2 linked regions of the Homo sapiens genome follow. The protein of the gene in region 2 purifies or fractionates together with the protein of the main gene of each other region. This does not show direct contact. Each region holds a gene or a part of one and is shown on either strand. Other genes may lie near its edges. The genes, in order: PPP2R3C and CEP350.

The links.
Region 1: the proteins of CEP350 (region 2) and PPP2R3C purify together in Homo sapiens (affinity purification with mass spectrometry; 2 studies listed by BioGRID and IntAct, with this or other methods). This does not show direct contact.

What each region holds. Positions count from the first base shown.
Region 1 is NC_000014.9:35,101,871-35,113,516, reverse strand, and holds part of PPP2R3C (serine/threonine-protein phosphatase 2A regulatory subunit B'' subunit gamma), read left to right. Parts: intron 1-386; exon of another isoform or gene 387-1,442; coding exon of another isoform or gene 1,443-1,472; intron 1,473-2,874; exon of another isoform or gene 2,875-2,887; coding exon 2,888-2,992; intron 2,993-3,585; coding exon 3,586-3,698; intron 3,699-5,280; coding exon 5,281-5,378; intron 5,379-6,142; coding exon 6,143-6,213; intron 6,214-10,787; exon of another isoform or gene 10,788-10,836; intron 10,837-11,646. UniProt on the Homo sapiens protein: May regulate MCM3AP phosphorylation through phosphatase recruitment. May act as a negative regulator of ABCB1 expression and function through the dephosphorylation of ABCB1 by TFPI2/PPP2R3C complex.
Region 2 is NC_000001.11:180,090,806-180,102,451, forward strand, and holds part of CEP350 (centrosome-associated protein 350), read left to right. Parts: intron 1-1,808; coding exon 1,809-3,811; intron 3,812-4,717; coding exon 4,718-5,125; intron 5,126-5,232; coding exon 5,233-5,379; intron 5,380-8,057; coding exon 8,058-8,180; intron 8,181-11,646. UniProt on the Homo sapiens protein: Plays an essential role in centriole growth by stabilizing a procentriolar seed composed of at least, SASS6 and CPAP. Required for anchoring microtubules to the centrosomes and for the integrity of the microtubule network.

The sequences.
Region 1 (11,646 bases), on a different chromosome or scaffold from region 2:
TAGGAATGGTGTGACCCCGTTCCTGAGCCCAGGACTGAACTTTCTTGTACTTCCGGGACCAAACCTTTGCCTTCTTTTTCTGGTTCCTGAGGGAATCTCCTTTTTTTCCTTTCTTCGTGTCACTTCTCTCTTTGGCCACCTCTAGATCTTAGATGGTCTCCTGTCTGCAGCTATGGATTTGTAAAAAAGTCCTTTCCCTTCTTTCTTCTTCCTCTCCATGGTCCCACTGCTTCAGAGAAAACACCTATTATCTTGAGTCACCACTTCTCTCCTTGGCTGATTAGCTGGTTAACTAGCCACTAGAACACAATGTCAGTCACCCCCAACTCCAGCCCCATCCCCATCTCCTAATGTTTCTTCTGTTGACGAAGAGTTGAACTCTGTAAAATATTTGAAGAGATTTATTCTGAGCCAAATATGAGTGGCCATGGCCTGTGACACAGCCTTCAAGAGATCCTGAGAACATGTACCAAAGGTGGTTTGGGTGCAGCTTGGTTTCATACATTTTAGGGAGGCATGAGACATCAATCAAATACATTTGAGAAATACATTGGTTTGATCCAGAAAGGTGGGACAATTTGAAGTGGGGCTTCCAGGCTACAGGTAAATTCAAATGTTTTCTGGTTGACACTTGGCTGAGTTTGTCTAAAGACCTGGGATCAAACAGAAAGGAATGTCTGGGTTAAGATAAGAGGCTGTAGCGACCAAGGTTTTATCATGCAGATGAAGCTTTTAGCTAGCAGGCTTCAGAGAGAATAGGTTGCAAAATGTTTCTTATTAGACTTAAAGTCTGTGTTGATGTTAATGCCAGAGAGGTATAACGAGGCATGTTTGACCCCCACTTCCCATCATGCCCTGAAACAGTCTCTCAGGTTAAATTTTAAGGGCGCTGACTGAGGAGGAAGTCCATTCAGATGGTTGGGGGGCCTTAGAATTTTATTTTTGGTTTATACTCCTTTAACTCTGTTCCTTCTGATGGGAGGGATGGCATCTTAGTTCCTGGAAATGAAAGATGAAAACCATAACCCCAAGTTTTGACGTAAGGTTTACCGAGGTAATTTAATGGGGCTAAGATGTAGAAAAGGAAGAAGAACTCTTTAAAGTAAATTATTCTGGCTGGGTGTGGTGGCTCATGCCTGTAATCCTAGCACTTTGGGAGGCCAAGGTGGGAGGACTGCTTGAGTCCAGGACTTCAAGACCAACCTGGGCAACATAGCAAGACCCTGCCTCTATTATTAATTTAAAAAAGAAGAAATAAAGCAAATTGTTCTAAGTCAGGTTGGAATGAATCATTCTAAAGCTCTGCTCATGGAAATCACCCCAGTTGGCAAACCCTCTTGCCTGGGAGGCCAACATAATAGGCACTGCCTTGACTGTCTCCAAGAAGAAAGGTGATCCAATCTCAACAGGCATGCTTTCCTAAAACTGGACAAGAAGAATAAATGGTTTTTGCTGGACAGGAAGAATTACAGGTAAGAACCACCCAACAGGTTCTTCTTGCCTGCTACCCAGATAGAGCCAATTTATCAAGATGGGAATTGCAAGAGAGAAATAATTTCATATACATGGAGACAGCTAAATGGGAGACAGGAGTTTTATTATTACTCAAATCAGCCTTCTTGAAAAGTTGGAGGCTAGGGTTTTTCAAGGATAGTTTGGTAGGCAGGGGCTAGGGAATGGGTACTGCTGATTGGTTGGGGATGGAATCACAGGGATATAGAAAAACAGTCCTGGTCCTTGCGTGCTGAGTCTGCTTCTGGGTTGGGGCCACAGAGGAGTGGCTGGTCTGAGAGGGGCCATTGGGTAGTCAGAAGTGCAAAAGCCTGAAAAGACATCTCAAAAGGCCAGTCCTGTGTACTACAATAGTGATGTTATTTACAGGAGTAATTGAGGATGTTGCAAATTTTTGTGCCCTCTGGAATAATAACTGCTAATCATTTAACTGACCTGCATCTTAGCAGAATTCTGGTCCTTCGCATCCTCCTGACCTGGTGTCCTTTCATTAGTTTTACAAAGGCAGTTTAGTTTTGGGATGAGCTATTATCATTTAAATCATAAACTAAATTTCTCCCAAATTTATTAATATCTTGGCCCATGCCCAGGAATGACCAAGGGCAGATTGGAGGTTAAAAACAAGATGGAGTTGGTTAGGTCAGATCTCTTTCACTGTCATCATTTTGTCACTGTTATAATTTTGCAAAGGTGGTTTTGAAATTGTCAATCTCCAGTTAATCCTCATTTAATTCTTCTATATCATTCTTTTTTTTTTTTTTTTTTTTTTGGTAGATGGAGTCTCGCTCTGTTGCCAGGCTGGAGTGTAGTGGCGTGATCTCAGCTCACTGCAACCTCCGCCTCCTGGGTTTAAGCAATTCTCCTGCCTCAGCCTCCTGAGTAGCTGGGACTACAGGCACATGCCACCATGCCCAGCTAATTTTTGTATTTTTAGTAGAGACGGGGTTGCACAGTGTTGGCCAGGATGGTCGATCTCTTGACTTCATGATCCGCCTGCCTCGGCCACCCAAAGTGCTGGGATTACGGGTGTGAGCCACTGCCCCCAGCCAATTCTATATCATTCTAAGGAAGCCAGCATGCCCAGCCAATTCTGTGTCATTCTAAGGTGACAATAGAAACACAGTGCTTTAAGAAAATAAAATGAAACTTGGTCTAGACTAGCTTTTAGAATGGCTTTTTCAGGGCAGAGATCCAGCCTTTCTGATCACCGATTCTCTGTGGATCAGTTTTTGTTAAACAAATGTTAAGCACAATTAAGGTGAGATACAAGAAATAATTCGAGGCGGTGGCATACAGTTATTTTATGAGGCCACATACATTTTATAGGATCCAGTAGTCTAAAATTTACATGTAGAAATTTACCTTGTATTTTCAGCTGCCTGCTGAAGATGAAGTCTTACTACAGAAATTAAGAGAGGAATCAAGAGCTGTCTTTCTACAAAGAAAAAGCAGAGAACTGTTAGATAATGAAGAATTACAGGTAAGAACAAAGCAAAAAGTTGCTTTAGATGTTAACCATTTCTCATTTGTGCTACTTAAATCATGCAGGATTTCTTGGTGCCTAATGGAGTCCGTACTACAGAGTGGTACTACATAGGCTCTGAAGCAGCAGTTCCCACCAGAAGCAGCCGCTGAGTTTGCATGGGTCATGTACCCCAAACATAGTGTTGTTTGTTATTTTTGTTTAAGGCCCTAGGTGATTCTAATGTGCAGCCAAGGTTGAGAACCACTGCTGTAGGGTCAGACTACAGAGGTTCAAATCCCAGCCCTGCTATATGACTTTAGGCAATGGACTTAACATCTCTGTGCTTCGATTATCATCTCTAAAGTAGGGATAGCTAACTATATCATAGAGATGTGGATTAAAGAGGCAGTGTATATCAAAAGCTTAGTAGGCACTCAATAAATGTTATTTTTATTGTTAGTAATCAAAAGGATAATAGGGCATGAGATTCATCTTAATATTGACTCTGCCAACAAACTCTCATTTTAGTGGAAAGCACACATTTAACTACATATTAAAATCTTGTTGTTTTTAACTTACAACATCTTCACTTCCACAATTCTCTTAAGAACTTATGGTTTTTGCTGGACAAACACCAGACACCACCTATGATTGGAGAGGAAGCGATGATCAATTACGAAAACTTTTTGAAGGTTGGTGAAAAGGCTGGAGCAAAGTGCAAGTAAGAATAATATAATTAACAAAAGAATGTGTTATGTTAAGCATTTTAAATGCCTCAAATATTGGCTGGGCACAGTGGCTCACACCTGTAATCCCAGCAGTTTTGGAGGCTGAGGTGAGAGGATTGCTTGAGCTGGGGTGTTTGAGGCCAGCCTGGGCAACTTAGGGAGATCTTGTCTCTACTAAAAAAATTATCTGGGTGTGGGGGCGTACACCTGTAGCTACTCCGGAGGCTGAGGTGGGAGAATTGCTTGAGCCCGGGAGGATGAGCTGTGATTAAGCCACTGCACTCCAGCCTGGGCGATAGAGCAAGACCTTACCTTTAAAAAAAATAAACAAATCCTCAAATATTAAATGAAGTAAATGGAATGACATTTGAGTCCATTTAAGTTACTAATTAAATTTAATAAAATTATTTACAGTCAAAAAATCACATTGGTATGAAGTTATTAAAATAAATAATATAGCCAGGTGTGGTGGCTCATGCCTGTAATCCCAGCACTTTGGGAGGCTGAGGTGAGCGGATCACGAGGTCAAGAGAACAAGACCATCCTGACCAACATGGTGAAACCCCGTCTCTACTAAAAATACAAAAATTAGCTGGGCGTGGTGGCGTGTGCCTGTAATCCCAGCTACTCAGGAGGCTGAGGCAGGAGAATCGCTTGAACCCTGGAGGCGGAGGTTGCAGTGAGCCGAGATCGTGCCACTGCACTCCAGCTTGGCAAAAGAGCAAGACTCCATCTCAAAAAAAAAAAAGAAATAATATAGTTTATGACACTTTCAGCCTTAAGACAGACGAAAGCAAACAAAAAAGAATGCAAGGCCAGGCACTGTGGCTCACGTGCCCATCTCTGCAAAATAAAAAAAACTTTTAATTAAAAAAAAAAAGAATGCAAACATTTATGACTTAGGCTAGGCATGGTGCCTCACGTTTGTAATTCCAGTGCTTTGGGAGGCCAAGGCAGGTGGATCACTTGAGGCCAGGAGTTCGAGATCAGTCAGGGCAACAGAGCAAATCTCTGTTTATATATATATATTTATCTTTTTTTTTGAGATGGAGTCTTGCTCTGTCGCTAGGCTGCAGGGGAGTGGCGCAATCTCAGCTCACTATAACCTCCGCCTCCTGGGTTCAAGTGATTCTCCTGCCTCAGCCTCCCAAGTATTATTGTATTAACAAAAGAATATGTTAAGCATTTTAAATGCCTCAAATATTGGCTGGGCCAATATAAATACAATATAATACAATATAAATACCCAATACAAATACTTTTTGTATTTTTACTAGAGACGGGGTTTCACCATGTTGGCCAAAATGGTCTCGATCTCTTGACTCATGATGTGCCTGCCTCAGCCTCCCAAAGTGCTGGGATTACAGGCAAGAGCCACTGCGCCTGGCCAAATCTCCATTTCTTTTAAAAAAAAAAAAAAGTTTGACTTAATATTTTAAGTTTTTGAATTATAAGGAGTCTCTATTGTTCTTTCATTTTTAATTGTATGAATTTATGCCATTGTTTGCTAATTTATGTAGAAGTCATTTTCTTTTATGTTGGCAGATCATTTAAATCTTTATTTTCTTTTCTTAGGCAATTTTTCACAGCAAAAGTCTTTGCTAAACTCCTTCATACAGATTCATATGGAAGAATTTCCATCATGCAGTTCTTTAATTATGTCATGAGAAAAGGTGATTCATTTTTACTGTGCTTGAACTCCTTATCTGGGAATCAAGTAGGTTTTTGGTCTGTGCTTTTATAAGTATTTCTTCTATGTGAAATCACTCTAAGTTTGAATAGTAGAATTTCTTATCTTTTGACCAAGATGTGTTACATAAACTTGGGTTAGCATAAAAAAACAAAAATTTTTTAAACCCTCATGTGTCTTAAAGATAATAGTAGACTAGAAATATTAAGAGCTGAACCAAGAGTTTTAATGTATGGTAATTTGAAATAATTTTAATTTACTGATAATTTTATTTTACCAGTATATTACAAGTTGAGTTGACTGATAGTTTCAAACCCAAAGCTGTAATATCAGTTTCAAGGAGCATCAATTAAACAGCTTGGACTTATGATTCCTACAAGTGCCATAATAATCTGTGAAAGCCTATTGTATACAATCTTTAATAATTGGTTGCTGTAATTAACCTCAGAAATAAAAGCAGCTTCACTGAAGGCATAATATTATACTAGCTGTCCCTGTTTGGTGGAACACCAAGTTTAATTGGTAAAGAACAGTATCTTCAAGGTGTCAATTTTATTATAGCTTTAGTCATGGTAGAATTGTTGAACTCTTCCATTCTATGGTTTTTTGTTTCAAGCAATTTTGTGGTGAGAAGAAATGTTTTTAGAGTTACTAGATTAGCTTGTCTCAAATCTGGCTCTTTATCTCCTTTTTCATATCTGAAGGATAGATCTTAAGAATTACTTTCATTTTCTTGTTTATTGTCAGTTTGGCTTCATCAAACAAGAATAGGACTCAGTTTATATGATGTCGCTGGGCAGGGGTACCTTCGGGAATCTGTAAGTGTTAACCTTATAGATATTATATTAACTCTTATAGACACTAAAATGTAAACTGTAGTTATCACTGGGTGTTGGGATTACAGGCTGTTCTCATAATACTTTGTTTTATTTCTGTCTGTGTGTGTTTGTGTGTACATATTTAGTTTTACTGTAACAAAGCAACTTGTACACTTTCAACTTTTAAAATTGAACATCATCTTTCCAGTGAAACAAAAAACAAATTTAAAATAAACAAAATTACAATAGAGAATGTCAATTCCAAATAAGATCCTACAGGTTCTACTGATTCTCCCATGGAGTAGCAGCCTTCAAGTCATCATTAAGAGAGAATTTATGCTGGGTGTGGTAGCTCACACCTGTAATCCCAGCACTTTGGAAGGATGAGGCAGGCGGATCACCTGAGGTCGGGAGTTTGAGACCAGCCTGACCAACATGGAGAAACCCTATCTCTACTAAAAATACAAAATTAGCCAGGCTTGGTGGCACATACCTGTAATCCCAGCTACTTGGAAGGCTGAGGCAGGAGAATCACTTGAACCCAGGAGGCAGAGGTTGCTGTGAACCGAGATAGCGCCATTGCACTCCAGCCTGGGCAACAAGAGTGAAACTCCGTCTCAAAAAAAAAAAAAAAAAAAAATGTATTGGCTGGGTGCAGTGGCTCACGCCTGTATTCCCAAGGCCTGTACTCCCAGCACTTTGGGAGGCTGACGTGGGCGGGTCACCTGAGGTCAGGAGTTTGAGACCAGCCTGACCAATATGGTGAAATTCCATCTCTACTAAAAATAGAAAAATTTGCTGGGCTGTGGTGGTGCATACCTGTAATCCCAGCTATTCAAGGGGCTGAGGTGGGAGAATCGCTTGAATCTGGGAGGCAGAGGTTGCAGTGAGCCGAGATTGCACCACTGCACTCCAGCCTGGGCAACAGAGGGAGACCCTGTCTCAAAAAAAAAGAGAGAGAGAATTTATTTTAAAGGTGTCATTTTAAACTGCAAGGATGCCCCTTAAAAATCACAATTAAACATGCCAAAGGAAAAGCAACGTTGTCAAAATGCTCACTTTAAACTATCAAAACGTTTCAAACCTACCCTTTGCTGACCTATAACCCCATTTTGTAAAATTTATTTTCTTTTTTTAAATAAGAGACAGTAGACAAGGATGCCGGGCGTGGTGGCTCACGCCTGTAATCCCAGCACTTTGGGAGGCCGAGGCGGGCGGATCACGAGGTCAGGAGATCGAGACCATTCTGGCTAACACGGTGAAACCCCATCTCTACTAAAAATACAAAAAAAAATTAGCCGGGCGTGGTGGCAGGCACCTGTAGTTCCAGCTACTTGGGAGGCTGAGGCAGGAGAATGGCATGAACCCAGGAGGCGGAGCTTGCAGTGAGCCGAGATCACGCCACTGCACTCCAACCTGGGCGAAAGAGCGAGACTCCATCTCAAAAAAAAAAAGACACAGTAGACAAGGAGATGTTGGTAAATGCTAACTGTCCATATTCACATAGAGACATAGTATACTCTGCGCTCAATAGAGGAAAGCAGCTAGAATTCTATGCACGACTACACAAGGGCCTAGCACCTTCCAGCTTCCAGCAGAGCAAAGGGAACAGGTTTTTCTTTTTTTTTCCATAGACCTCGGTGGTGTTGATTCCATATAGTTTTTGTTGAGACACAGGATGTTTCCGTTTTGGGGTTTGGTTTTTTATTTTTATTTTTTTTAACAAATGACATGTGTTACTAAACAAATGTTTAATGTATATTGACTATACAAATTCCTTTTTAGATTCTTTTTCTTCAAACTTTAAAAAAAAAAGGCCTTTTGGCTGGGCGCGGTGGCTCATGCCTATAATCCCAGCATTTTGGGAGGCCGAGGTGGGCAGATCTTGAGGTCAGGAGTTCAAGACCAGCCTGACCAACATGGAGAAACCCCGTCTCTACTAAAAATACAAAAATTAGCCAGGCATGGTGGTGGCCACCTGTAATCCCAGCTACTCAGGAGGCTGAGACAAGAGAATCGCTTGAACCCAGGAGGTGGAGGTTGCAGTGAGCCTAGATTGTGCCATTGCACTCCAGCCTGGGTGACAAGAGCGGACTGTCTCAAAAAAAAAAGCCTTTTAAAGGGGAAAATAAAAAGAATGTAGCATTTTAACATTTAAAAATCACTGAAAAACGTTTGATTATTCATGAGTGATATTAATGTGTCACTATTTTTTAAAGGGCCAAGAATTCCACCCCCCCGCTTTTTTTTTTTTAAGAAAATATAAGAGAAGCCAGACACGGTAGCTCACGCCTGTAATCCCAGCACTTTGGGAGGTGAAGGCGAGTGGATCACTTGATGTCAGGACTTCGAGACCAGCCTGATCAACATGGTGAAACCCTGTCTCTATTAAAAATACAAAAACATTAGCTGAGCATGGTAGCAGATGCCTGTAATCCCAGCTACTAGAGTGGCTGAGGCAGGAGAATCGCTTGAACCCAAGAGGCAGTTGCAGTAAGCTGAGATCATGCCACTGCACTCCAGCCTGGGCAACAGAGCAAGACTGTCTCAAAAGAAAAAAGAAAATATGAGAGAGAAAATGAATGTGACTGTATTCCCACCTCTGGGTTTAAGATTGCTAGGTCAGTTACCAAGAGGCTGCTTGTTTCCTATTAGGCACTGCTGTAATTAGGCCAAGTTATCAACAGAGAATTATAACTTCATGGTCCAAATGGCTATGCTTCTTCTGAGTATGGGTATCTAAATTATATGGACTTACTTTTCACCTCAGGCTTTTTTCCCAAATATACAGTGCTTTTTTTAAGATTGTAGGGGAGAGGGGAAGGGAGTTGGGCATGAATATAAACTAGGTTAATTAATCAAATAATTATTCAGATATAAGGGTTAAAGAAATGTAAATTTCTTGTTATAGTTCGTATGGTTCCTGCTATAATTTGTTGCATTCTGTTTTGTCTAGATTTCTGTAGATAGAATCTGTTAGCTCATTCTGAACATTTATACTGTAAAACCTTTCCAGGGGCACACTACAGTTCTCTTTAAGGTTCAGACCAACTTGAGAATAAAAGGCTCTTGCTTCTGGCAAGGAAGACATAATTAGCCACCTGCTGGTACTCGTTTAGAGGTCAGGTCCAAAACTGGAGTACTTCTCTAGCTCTGAGAATTCTTGTTAGCAGTTCACTTGATTTATAAAAACAGCAATATTGATTTATAAAAACAGTCCCCTGTTACTGCTTGTCTTGCCTCTTTCCATGGATGGAAACAAAGATTGAAAGAGAGATGAGCAAAAGGGAGAGAAAAGAAACAGTGTACTTCTATAGTTGTTTTTAAAAAGGAATAATTTTCCCCTTCTCTCAATGAAAGAAAACACTTTTCTCAAAGTATTTCTTCCATCCTTGGCCCATTGCCTTTTGAAACCCAGACTTTGTGTCTTACTAATTTGAAAGGCAGTGGCTTCCAGACCAACATTTATAATCTGAGTAGAGTATACAAAGTTTTATTCACTTATTAAATCTTATTAAGCATTTAGTAGACATTTATTTGGGGGCAGGTATTATTCTAAGCTTGTAGGGCTCATGTTTTACTTTGTGACAATCTGTTTGCCCAGATTTCTTTTTTTTCTTTTTTTTGTTTTCTTGCCCAGATTTCTGTAGATGGAATCTGTTAGCTCATTCTAAATGTTATACTTTAAAACCTTTCCAGGGACACAGTACAATTTTCATTCCCTTGTAGACCTATTTTTTCTAGCAGAGTGGGAAGACAGACACTAAATTATAAGCAGATAATATCAAATAGTGACAAGTTATATGTAGAAAATAAAACAGTAAACTAGGCAGGAATATGACTGGGATTGACAGACGATTTTAGGTAGGCTGGAAGGAGCATCTTTTTGAGATAGTGATTAAGTTTTAGCCATGAAGTACGAGAAAGAAGCCAGCCTTATGAAGATGTAGTATAGAGGAAACGGCAAATACAGTGTCTCCAAGGCAAAATTAAGCCTGGACCTGTTCTAGGAACAGAAGGAAGCCAGTGTGGCTAGAACAAGGACTATAGTAACAGAAAATGAAGTTGGAGAAGTAGGCAGGGGCCACATGTAGGGCCTTTTGGGCCACAGTAAGGACTTTGGATTTATTTTGAGGCTAACGGGAAACCATCGGAAGTTTTAAGCTGAGTCTGTCAGGATATGATTTACATTTTAAAAGATCATTCTGGATGCTGTATGGAGGATGTAAGGAACTCAAAGTACGGCCAGGCACGGTGGCTCATGCCCGTAATCCCAGCAACTTTGGGAGGCCGAGGCAGGTGGATCGCTTGAGCTCGGGAGTTCAAGACCAGCCTGGCCAACATGACGAAACCCCGTCTCCACTAAAAATACAAAAATTAGCTGGGTATGGGGGTAGGCACCTGTAATCCCAGCTACTTGGAGGCTGAGGCAGGAGAATCACTTGAACCCAGGGGATGGAGGTTGCAGTGAGCCAAGATTGAGCCACTGCACTCCAGCTTGGGCGACAGAGCAAGGCTCCATCTCTAAATAGATAAATAAATCTGGAGTATAAGCAAAATATTTAGGCACCTACCATGATAGTCCAGGTGAGATGATGGGCCCATAACTAGGGTAATTGGTGGCTGTAGAGAAAGCAAGAAATAGATTAATTCAATATATATTTTGGACTCCCCTCCTTCCCAGAAAAAACACAAATTGCTGCTAGATTGGATGTTCAGGGTAAGGAGTGTGAAGGCATTGATGAAGAAAAAGAGAAGCCAAAGACAAGTCTTAAATTTTTATTTTGAGTAACTGTTGGAATAGAGGAAAAGCAGGTGAGGACCAAGGTTGGAGATGACAAGAGAGCCCCATTTTGGATACTTCAAGTTTGAGATGCCAGTTGTCCTATAAACTTGAAAGTATCTCAGATCTACCAGAAATTTGATATTTGAAATGGTTAAAGCAAAAATAACATTGTTAAAATAAGTATAAGAAACCATGGGAAGGCACAGTGGCTCACGCCTGTAATTCCAGCACTTTGGGAGGCCAAGGCAGGCAGATCACTTGAGGTCAGGAGTTCGAGACCAGCCTGGCCAACATGGCGAAACCCCCTCTCTACTAAAAATACAAAAATTAGCCAGGCGTGGTGGTACGTGCCTGTAATCCTGGCTACTCAGGCTGAGACACAAGAATCGCTTGAACCCAAGAGGTGGAGGTTTCAGTGAGCTGAGATTGCGCCACTGCACTCCAGCCTGGACTGGACTGAGACTCCGTCTCAAAAAAAAAAAAAAAAAGAGAGAGAGAAACCATGGAAGGCTTTTAAATTTATAATCCTGTAATAGGGAAAGCCTTTCTAAGTATGACAAAACCCAGAAGTCTAGAAAACAATAAATTCAGCTAAATTTTTAAAGATCTATAGGGCAAAGCCCATGTTAAAGTAAAAAGAAAACAAC
Region 2 (11,646 bases):
TAGAAAAAATAATTAACTTGTAGCTACATAGTCTAAGGATTTATGCAAAGGCCTACAAAATTCTACCTCTATAGCTTTTTTATTAAAAAGTGAATTTCTTAAGTAGATTATTTAACATTTTAAAGTTACTTTTATATTTTAAAGTGATTTATTGGCTATGTGTAAATTATATGAATCCTTTTTGTTTGTTTTAGTTTTTTGGGTTTTTTTTTTGTTCGAGACAGGGTCTCACTCTGTCACCCAAGCTGGAGTGCAGTGGCATGATCATAGCTTACTACTGCAGCCTTGACCCCCTGGGCTCAAGCAATCCTCCCATCCTAGCCTCCCAAGTAGCCAGGACCAGGATCACAGGCACATGCCACCATGCCCAGCTCATCTTTTTTTTTTTTTTAAGAGACGGGGGGGTCTCACCGTTGTTGCCCAGGCTGGTCTCGAACTCTTGGACTCACGCAGTCCTCCCACCTCAGCCTGGTTGAACATTACCAGCACTTCAGCCAAAGTGGTGAGATTATGGGCATGAGCCACCACACTCAGCTGAATCAGTCTTTATTGTCCAAAATTTATGAGAAAAACCAAAGTATAAAGATTAAATAGCTGAGTATATCATCTGCATCTCTGAATTTCCCCTAACCAGATTTTTAATCTGGTTATATATATTTTCAGCCTAACTATTTCTTAGCTAAATAGCTGTATACATTTTTCAGTTTAACCAAAAGAAAGTTAATTATTAAAAATAAAATGTAGGCTAGGCGCAGCAGCTCACGCCTATAATCCCCACACTTTGAAAGGCTGAAGTAGGCAGGTCACTTGAGCTCAGGAGTTTGAGACCAGCCTGGGCAATATGGTGAAACTCCATCTCTACAAAACATACAAAGTTAGCTGGGCATGGTGGTGCACACCTATAGTCCCAGCTATTTGCAGGGCTGAGGCAGGAAGATCGCTTACACCCAAGCAGTTGAGTCTACAGCGAGTTGTGATCAGCCACTGCACTCCAGCTTGGGTGACAAATTGAGACACTATCTCAAAAAAAAAAAAAAATGTAATTCAGTGAGAAAATAAAACTGAGGTGCAAAGAAACATCAGTGACAAATAGAGATTTGGCCAGGCACAGTGGCTCGTGCCTATAATCCCAGGTACTTAGGAGGCTGAGGCTAAGGATCGCTTGAGCCCAGGTTCAAGGCAACAGGGAGCTGTGACCACTGCACTCCAGCTTAGGTGACAGAGCAGATTCTTGCTCTTACAAAAAAAAAACGATTTGAATTTAAAACTTTTAACTCTTGGTTTGTTAGCTCACTATATTGTACTTTGATCATATTTTGCACGTTTAGCTCTTAAAGTGCTATATTTGCAGAAATAGTTGATCTATTTTCTTTTTAATTCAAGAGCTTAGTTGAAGCTCCTAGGAAAATGTATTCTTTTAGAAGTATATATGGAAGTCTGTTTCTCCTTCACTAGTTTCCTGTTTGAAAAATGTTTGTAATAACCATCATACAATTCTATTTTTGCATGATTTGAGGATGAATGTGCAAAGCAATGGTTCCATCAACTTAGATACATTTTTCTTCACTTTATAAGTTAAGACAGTGCTTAAGAAATTATTCCAAACTTTAGAATTTTCAGTAATTTTAAATGTTGATACAGATGATATTCTCTTAAAAGAAAAACTTATAAAGTAGCCAAAACAGGTCATATTTATTGACTAGAGGGGTTTTTTTCACTAAAATTTGGCTTTTCTCTAAACTTTGGTTCACAAAATTGAAAGATAGTGATTAAATAATTTTGATGTGGTGATTTGTTTTTTCTTTAAGATGCTTCACTGTCTGGTTCTGAGAGATCAGTATCAGAAAGGTCTTTATCTGCATATGCAAAGAGAGTAAATGAATGGGACAGTCGAACAGAAGATTTTCAGACCCCATCTCCAGTTCTCAGATCATCAAGGAAAATCAGAGAAGAATCTGGAGATTCTCTAGAAAATGTACCTGCATTACATCTTCTCAAAGAATTAAATGCCACTAGTAGAATTCTTGATATGTCAGATGGCAAGGTTGGAGAATCTAGTAAAAAATCAGAAATAAAAGAAATAGAGTATACAAAATTGAAGAAGAGTAAGATTGAAGATGCCTTTTCTAAAGAAGGTAAATCTGATGTCTTACTGAAATTAGTCCTAGAACAGGGAGATTCATCTGAAATTCTTTCAAAGAAAGATCTTCCTTTAGATTCTGAAAATGTTCAGAAAGACCTAGTTGGATTAGCTATTGAAAATCTCCATAAAAGTGAGGAAATGTTGAAAGAGAGACAGTCAGATCAAGATATGAATCATAGTCCAAACATCCAATCAGGAAAAGACATTCACGAACAAAAGAACACAAAGGAAAAAGATTTGTCTTGGTCAGAACATCTTTTTGCTCCTAAAGAGATACCATACTCTGAAGATTTTGAAGTGTCTTCTTTCAAGAAAGAAATTTCAGCTGAATTGTACAAAGATGATTTTGAGGTGTCATCTTTGCTGTCACTCAGGAAAGACTCTCAGTCTTGCAGAGATAAGCCACAGCCAATGAGGAGCTCTACAAGTGGAGCCACTAGCTTTGGTAGTAATGAGGAAATCAGTGAGTGCCTAAGTGAGAAAAGCCTTTCTATCCATAGCAATGTTCATTCTGACAGGCTGTTGGAACTCAAGTCCCCTACTGAGCTGATGAAAAGTAAGGAGCGCAGTGATGTGGAGCATGAACAGCAAGTTACTGAATCCCCTTCCTTGGCTTCAGTTCCTACTGCAGACGAGTTATTTGATTTCCACATTGGTGATAGGGTGTTGATTGGAAATGTTCAGCCAGGAATTCTTCGATTCAAAGGTGAGACTAGTTTTGCTAAAGGATTTTGGGCCGGAGTGGAGTTAGATAAACCTGAAGGAAATAACAATGGAACATATGATGGTATTGCATATTTTGAGTGCAAAGAAAAGCATGGTATTTTTGCTCCTCCTCAAAAAATATCTCACATTCCAGAAAACTTTGATGACTATGTAGACATTAATGAAGATGAAGACTGTTACTCAGATGAACGATATCAGTGCTATAATCAAGAGCAAAATGATACAGAGGGTCCAAAAGACAGAGAAAAGGATGTCAGTGAATATTTTTATGAGAAATCCCTACCTAGTGTGAATGATATAGAAGCCTCAGTTAATAGAAGTAGAAGCCTTAAAATAGAAACAGACAATGTACAGGACATTTCTGGGGTACTTGAAGCCCATGTTCACCAGCAGTCTTCAGTGGATTCACAGATTTCTTCAAAGGAAAACAAAGACCTCATTTCTGATGCCACAGAAAAGGTTTCCATCGCTGCAGAAGATGACACTTTAGACAATACCTTTTCCGAAGAATTGGAGAAGCAACAGCAGTTTACAGAAGAGGAAGACAACCTATATGCTGAAGCTTCAGAAAAGCTTTGTACACCACTTCTGGATCTTTTAACAAGAGAAAAAAACCAACTGGAAGCCCAGCTGAAGTCATCACTAAATGAGGAAAAAAAGTCAAAACAACAACTGGAAAAAATCAGCTTACTGACAGACAGTTTACTAAAAGTCTTTGTAAAGGACACAGTCAATCAACTACAACAAATCAAAAAAACCAGGGATGAGAAAATCCAGCTTAGCAATCAGGAGCTTCTTGGTGATGACCAAAAGAAAGTAACACCCCAAGACCTATCCCAAAATGTTGAGGAACAGTCGCCAAGTATTTCAGGTTGCTTCTTAAGTTCTGAATTGGAAGATGAAAAAGAAGAGATTTCCTCTCCAGATATGTGTCCCAGACCGGTGAGTATTTCGTCTAGAAAAAGTATCAGTATACCTTTTGACACTTTTAACAAGGCAACTTACCTTGCCTATATAGTACATTTTAATTCTGTGACTCCTGATAGGTTTTTTTTCCCTTGACGTGTTGTTTATTAGAGAAGGATCACTGTACTGGTTTTTAAAGGCCTTGTAGCTGTTTTTCCTGGCTGAAGTGTAATTGTCCTCTATTATGTCATGAGTAGTCAATATAGGGTTGTCACAAGCACTGGCAGGTTTTGGGGAACTAAAACATCCATTTAAACTGCTGAGTTGACAACCCCTGTACTGTCCATAGATTACATCTCCTTCCAGATTCACTGAACAAATTCGTTCCATGGAGCTTTCCAGTGGCTCACCACCCAATTCTTTTTTGCCTGTGAAATTGTTTACATATCTACTCAGTCATGGTTGGCCTGCAGAGGTTAGCAGTTGTGATGTTGATTCTGGTAAAATGAAATAGATCCACTATGACATGCACTCAGACCATCAGCTTGTTTATGTTGCCCATGGACAGTTGAGCAAAAGTAATGACTTTGAGTAACTTGAGCCAGATGGTCACCAGAGGTGAGAAATTTTATATCCCATTTCCATATCCCATAGACAGTTCTTTAGAAACAGAATAATGATAATACAAAAAGCGGGGAGAGCCCTAATCAATAAACATTTTATAAAAATTCAGTTATATGCAAGGTTTATATAAGTAGAATTGAGGGAACAGGATAACTTTTTCTTAGATTGTTTATTAGTAGCCACCATATTGTTTTTTATTCTGCTTACTTATAGAGAAATATTAGATATATAAATAATGCATTTACTCTGTCTTTTTTTAAAAAAAAATGATATGAGGTCCCTAAATGGTGCTCTGTTTGAATGGTTCCATTTCTATAGGAGAGCCCAGTATTTGGTGCCAGTGGGCAGGAAGAACTTGCTAAGAGACTTGCTGAACTTGAACTCAGCCGGGAGTTCCTGAGCGCGTTAGGAGATGATCAAGACTGGTTTGATGAAGACTTTGGTTTGAGCTCTTCTCACAAGATCCAAAAAAATAAGGCAGAAGAAACCATTGTACCTCTAATGGCAGAACCTAAAAGAGTAACCCAACAACCATGTGAAACATTATTGGCAGTCCCCCATACTGCAGAAGAAGTAGAGATTCTTGTACATAATGCAGCAGAAGAACTTTGGAAATGGAAAGAATTAGGCCACGATCTTCATAGCATCAGTATTCCTACAAAACTGCTTGGCTGTGCCAGTAAAGGTCTAGATATAGAAAGCACTAGTAAAAGGGTCTACAAACAGGTAGGTGAAATAAAAGGATAATTTTAGTTTTTAAACTTTTCTCCCATTGTCTGAAATTTGGATTCTTAGCCATTTTGTTTTGTTTTGTTTTGTTTTTCTCTATCAAGGCGGTTTTTGATTTAACAAAAGAGATTTTTGAGGAAATATTTGCTGAGGATCCCAACTTAAATCAACCTGTCTGGATGAAGCCATGTAGAATCAACTCTAGTTATTTCCGACGAGTGAAAAATCCAAATAACCTTGATGAAATCAAGGTAAACTGCAAACTATAAAGTGTCTTCTTTTTTGACTTGCTGTTCATTTACACATATCTGTAAATGTTGTAAAAGCAGGTGCTCTTCTGTATGATTAACCTTTGTGTCTTCAGGACCTGTTCCATAGTGGGTATTCAATAAAGATTTGTTGACTTACTGAATCCATGAACAGTGGAGGGATTGGAATGAGTGAAAGGGCTGAATCCTCAAGTTTGTGCAAAAAAAAAAAAAAATTCTTTTACCAGTCATTTTCTCTATATACATAATTATAATATTTAAGAAAAATTAGGAAATACCTAGGGAGATAAATTATTGCAACTAATAGGAGTTTTAGGTAAGTTTTGGGGGCTTTAGAGATAGGTATAATGTTCTAAAAGTACATATGAATACGTGTCATATATATGTCTTTTCAATATGCCAGCCCTGGACACATAGGTGTTAACTTCTTTATCTTTGACTTTGGAGGTTTCAAATTGGTAATGTGGTTTTGAACTATGTAGGATAGTAATGTGATACGTAAAAATATTTATTTTGTTATCTAAGAAACCTTTGTAAACCTTTGTCCAGAAGCTACAAGGACTATGAACTTTAAAGTCACATTGCTGGCAATCTGCTCTGCCTAGTCACATGTTTCTTTACGGCAAAGGTTATATTTCCAGAGCAGTGATTCTCAACTTTTAATGTGCATGTGAATGATCTGAGGATCTTGTTGAAATGGAGATTCTGATTTAGTAGGTCTGGAGTAGGACCTGAAATTCTGCATTTCCAACAAGCTCTCAAGTCATGCTGGTCCTGCTGGTCCTGCTGGTCCTGCTGGTCCCAGGACCACGCTGAGTAGCAAAGCTTTAAACTTGTATTTCCCAAACTTATTTGATCACAGAAAGCCTTTAAAAATATTTTATACTTATAGAACACCAACAGATATTTATGAGATGGGATGTATGCTTACCTCAGGGGTTGGCAAACTATGGCCCATAAGCCAAATCCAGGCCCCTGTATGTTTTTATAAATAAAGTTTTGTTGGACCACAGCCATACCTAGTTGTTTACATGTTACAACTACATGTAACTACAACAGTGGAATTGAATAGTTGTGACAAAGACCACATGGCCCGCAAAGCCTAAAATATTTACAGTCTGATTTTTTACAGAAAAAATTGGCCATCCCCTGGCTTAAAGTAACTAGCTTTTTAAAAACACATTGTATACTCCATTCCTTCTACCCTTTCACAATTGAAAATGCTTGAATGCTATGTGTGTCTGTGAACAGGTAGGGAGTGATGGAATTTCCGGGCACGTTGGTACTTTGAGAATCTTTCCAGGTGATTCTGATTCATAAATGTGTCCCTTCCCCTGTTAAGAACATTGTTTTTTTAACAGAACAACCATAAAAGTAACAAAATAAATTATTAATAACATTAAGTTGAGGTAAGACAAGATATATAATATATACCAACAATCAAACTACATGCATCAATATAGCATACAATAAATGCCCACTAATTTTAATATTGACATAACATTTTGTAAAGTTTTTAAGGGTGATAGTTCAAATATTGTTAGTAGTAAAATTATTATGCTTCTCATACTGAAGTGTTGATATTTTTTAATTTAACATATTTGAGTTTTGGTGCTTCAAAATAAACTATCCCAAAGTCTTTTGCTTTTCTCACATTACATTGTCCCCAAAAATTTCTTTGAGATTTTTCCAATTCAGAGATTTATTTTATGCTTTCTTTAGTAGTTTTGCCAGCTTGAAGTTAGCTAATGGTAGTTTTGTTGTTGTTTTTTCTTTGTTTTTCTTGAGGTGGAGTTTCACTCTTGTTGCCCAGGCTGGAGTACAATGGCGTGATCTCAGCCCACTGCAACCTCCGCCTCCTGGATTCAAGTGATTCTCCTGCCTCAGCCTCCTGAGTAGCTGGGATTACAGGCATGCGCTACCTCACCCAGCTAATTTTGTATTTTTAGTAGAGACAGGGTTTCTCCATGTTGGTCAGGCTGGTCTCGAACTCCCGACCTCAGGTGATCCGCCGCCTTGGCCTTTCAAAGTGCTGGGATTACAGGCGTGAGCCACCGCACCCAGCATGGTAGTTCTTAAGTAAACTCTAAAGTGATTTTTCTTTGCAGATTAATCAGTGGGTTTTACTTTGTTGTTGTTGTTGTTGTTGTTATTTTTAGATAAGATCTCGCTTTGTCACCTAGGCTGGAGTGCAGTGGTGCAATCTCAGCTCACTGCAGTCTGGACCTCCTGGGCTCAATCAGTTCTCCCACCTCACCCTCCTGAGTAGCCAGAACTACAGTCATGTACCACCATGCCCAGCTAATTTTATATATTTTTTGTAGAGATGAGGTCTCTCACTATGTTGCTCAGGCTGGTCTCAAACTCCTGGGCTCAAGTGATTCTCCTGCCTTGGCTTCAGAGAGTGCTGGGATTACAGACGTGAGTCACCGTGCCCAGCTAGGTTTTACTTTTATATGTTGCGTAAGTGAATAAAGTCTCAGCATTTGGAATGCTTTTCCCTTCAAATTGCTATGTGGAACTGTAAGTGGAAGAAATTTGTATGATAATTTTATTGTAAATATTATATTCTTATCGTGAATCTGTTTACTGCATTGTAAACACATGAAACTCAGGAATTTCTGTTGTTTGTGTTTCGTGTATTTGTCTTGTTTCCACAGAGCTTCATAGCAAGTGAAGTACTCAAGTTGTTCAGTCTTAAAAAGGAGCCAAACCACAAAACAGATTGGCAGAAAATGATGAAATTTGGAAGAAAGAAAAGAGACCGAGTGGATCATATCCTGGTCAGTGTATACAACCAAACTGTTTTTATTTTGACCATATCTTTTAAACTCAGAATGCAGTTAGATTCTAAAAGGAAAAGGGATAGACTTATTCTTAAATCTATGGTATTAAAATCTTAAAGCCTTTACTTGCTGCATTTCTACCCCTCAGTTTTGTTAACTATTTTCTTTTGTACTCAGTAGATGAACATTTAACTTGATCAATAGTATTTTATGTAGAACTTGAGAAATTTACTCAAATGGAAGCAAAGTTTAAGGTAGTGAATTGAAAAGAGACCAGTGTGGACTCTGGAGCCTGACTGCCCATGTTTAAATCTCTTGATGTGTAATCTTGGACAAATTTGTCTAACATTTTTGTGCAAAGTGAAGGTAACAATAATAGTACTTACCTGATAAAATTATTAAGAAAATTAAATAAGTATATGTGTAAAGCACTTAGAATAGTTCCTCATATACAACTCAGTAAATAATAGCTGTTACCTCATCATCATCACTATTATCATTATCCAGAACATTCCCTGGATAGGATTTATTTGGTTTTGCAATATATTTCTGTAACATTAGGAAAGTGTTTATCAAAAAAGAAAAAAAGAAAAATTCAGGTTTCACTCTAAACATTTTAATTCTGGACCTTTTATCTATATTGACATTTATATAATGAAAAAAAGTGTAATACTTAAATTTATCACCGTTCTCATGTATGTACCTCTCTAGTGTTTCATTTACTCAGTAATAACTGTACTAGATAACATTTGCTTAGTATTTTATAGTTTATCATTCTTATGCCTTATTTGATTTTTTTTTTTTTTTTTTTTTTTGAGACACAGTCTCGCTCTGTCACCCTGGCTGGAGTGTGGTGGCACAATCTCTGCTCACTGCAGCCTCTGCCTCCCAGGTTCAAGTGATTCTCATGCCTCAACCTCCCGAGTAGCTGGGATTACAGGCACCTGCAACCATGTCCAGCTAATTTTTGTATTTTTAGTAGAGATGGGATTTCGCCATGTTGGCCAGGCTGGTCTCAAACTCCTGACCACAAGTGATCCGCCTGCCTTGGCCTCCCAAAGTGCTGGGATTACAGGCATGAGCCACCGCGCCCAGTGTCTTATGCCTTATTTGATCCTCACGATAATTACATGAGGTAGGAAGAACTAATGTTATCCTTTGTTTTACAAATGAGGTGTCTTACGCCTTATTTGATCCTCACAATAATTACATGAGGTAGGAAGGACTAATGTTATTCTTTGTTTTACAAATGAGGAAATTTAGATTCAAAGATGTTAAGTGACTTGCCCAGTAAAATAAGAGACGAGATTTTAATCAACTAATTCTTCATAGATCTTCACATCTCAAGAAAGTGAATTTGTTCTCCTATTTCTATCATGTCTTAAAGTCTGAATTGTTATTAATTTCCAAGTTGTTACTTCCTTTACTTCTTAGGAATTAAAGAAAAAAGCATATTAAGAGGCATTCATCTAACCTATCAGCTAAATTGATGATATCCCCTATAAATCACCTCTGTATATACATTGAGTCAAAAATTGTGCTAATTAAGGACTGATGTTAACAATAGTAAGCAAAACAGACACAGACCCCACCTTCATAGATTTCCAGTTTGAAGGCAGAAACCAGCCATTAATATATCGTTTACACACAAGTGTGTAAGTTATGCATAAAAATGGAAGAATAGGGAGCTGTTAAAACCACAGGAAGCTGATATAATGAGGATGGTCAAGGCAGGCTTCTCTGAGGAAGTGACATTTGAGCTCAGATCTTAAAGATGAATACATGGCAGCAGTAAGAGAAAATGAGGAGGAAGCAAAAGTGGAAACCCCTGATAAACCCATCAGATCTTGTGAGACTTAATTGCTATCACGAGAATAGCATGGGAAAGACTCCCATGATACAATTACCTCCCCCTGGGTCCCTCCCACACACGTGGGAATTCTGGGAGATACAATTCAAGTTGAGATTTAGGTGGGGACACAGCCAAACCATATCAGTACCCTGACAGCAGAGGCTTCCAGTAGGTGCCAAACAGGGTCAGTTAAGCAGACATCTCTCTAACAGTTATCAGAAATTCTCAAATACTAAACAAAATATTTCTTTTGCAGGGGTAAGGTTATTATAGCTTGGGTGAGGGGAGTACTGTGCATAAGAATTGAAGCAATTTAGCAACTGGTAAACAATAATAATAAAGTATATATTATGTGACTATCCCCTTTGCTGGTTGTAAAATATTTTTTAGCTTCCTACAGAGAGACCTGACCTATATAACTTTTTGCATGAGCTCGTTCTTCTTAATTTTTTTTTTTAACAAAATGATACTGTCAGCTTCTTGAGCTAATTATTAACAAGAAATGCTAAATGAACTAGTCTCCTCTCCCATAATTAGATTTGGTAAACCTTGTATTTGCAGATTCTAATGTTTTTACATTTTAGGGGGATTGAGATTTAAAACAATTTTTTAATAACACGTAAAAGTTTTCTCAAACCACTTCCTCTACTCTCACATTACAACAATCATCACCACACAAGAAAACTTCTGTGACCATATGTGTGTGGACTTTTCCCCCACACACCAAGCAGTGGACACCAGCTGGGTATCCTCTGAATCAGTTCTGATACTCCCTACCCAGATATAGTGTCACATCCCACAGAGTGAGTGCTCAGTCCCCAAGACTGCCCCTGCCCCCTCCACACACACATACCAGTTGCAAGTCCAGGCCTCCAGAACTTCTGATGGACTAGCTTCAAGTTGGGGCTCCCAAGATCCACCTTTGGGTTTAATTAATTTGATGGAGTAGCTCACAGAACTCAGTAAACACTTACTTAGGTTTACTGGTTTATTAGGAAGGATATTGCAAAGGATACAGAGACGCATAGGGTGGAGTATGGGAAAGGGGCACAGAACTTCCATGCCTTCCCTGGGCTGCCACCCTCCAGGAACCTCCAGGTTTAGCTATCCAGAAGCTACCTGAACTCTTTCCTCTTGGGTTTTTCTGAAAGCTTCATGACATCAGCATTCCTTCCCCCAAGGTATTGGGTAGGACCCTCTCATGGGAGGGCCTTAAGACCCACAGTCAGAAAGGTAGGGGAACATTAGAGTGAAAGGAGGGCGGGCCTGCCACTGAGGCCTAACACCCTTGACATTTTTTTTTTTTTTTTTTTGAGACAGAGTCTCGCTTTGTTACCCAGGCTGGAGTGCAGTGGCACCACCTCGGCTCACTACAACCTCCGCCTCCCGGGTTCAAGCAATTCTCCTGTCTCAGTCTCCGGAGTAGCTGGGATTAGAGGCGCATGCCACCATGCCTGGCTAATTTTTGTATTTTTAGTAGAGATGGGGTTTCACCATGTTGGCCAGGCTGGTCTCAAGCTCCTGACCTCAGGTGATCCACCTGTCTCGGCCTCCCAAAGTGCTGGGATTACAGGCGGGAGCCACCGCACCTGGCCAACCCCCCACATTTTA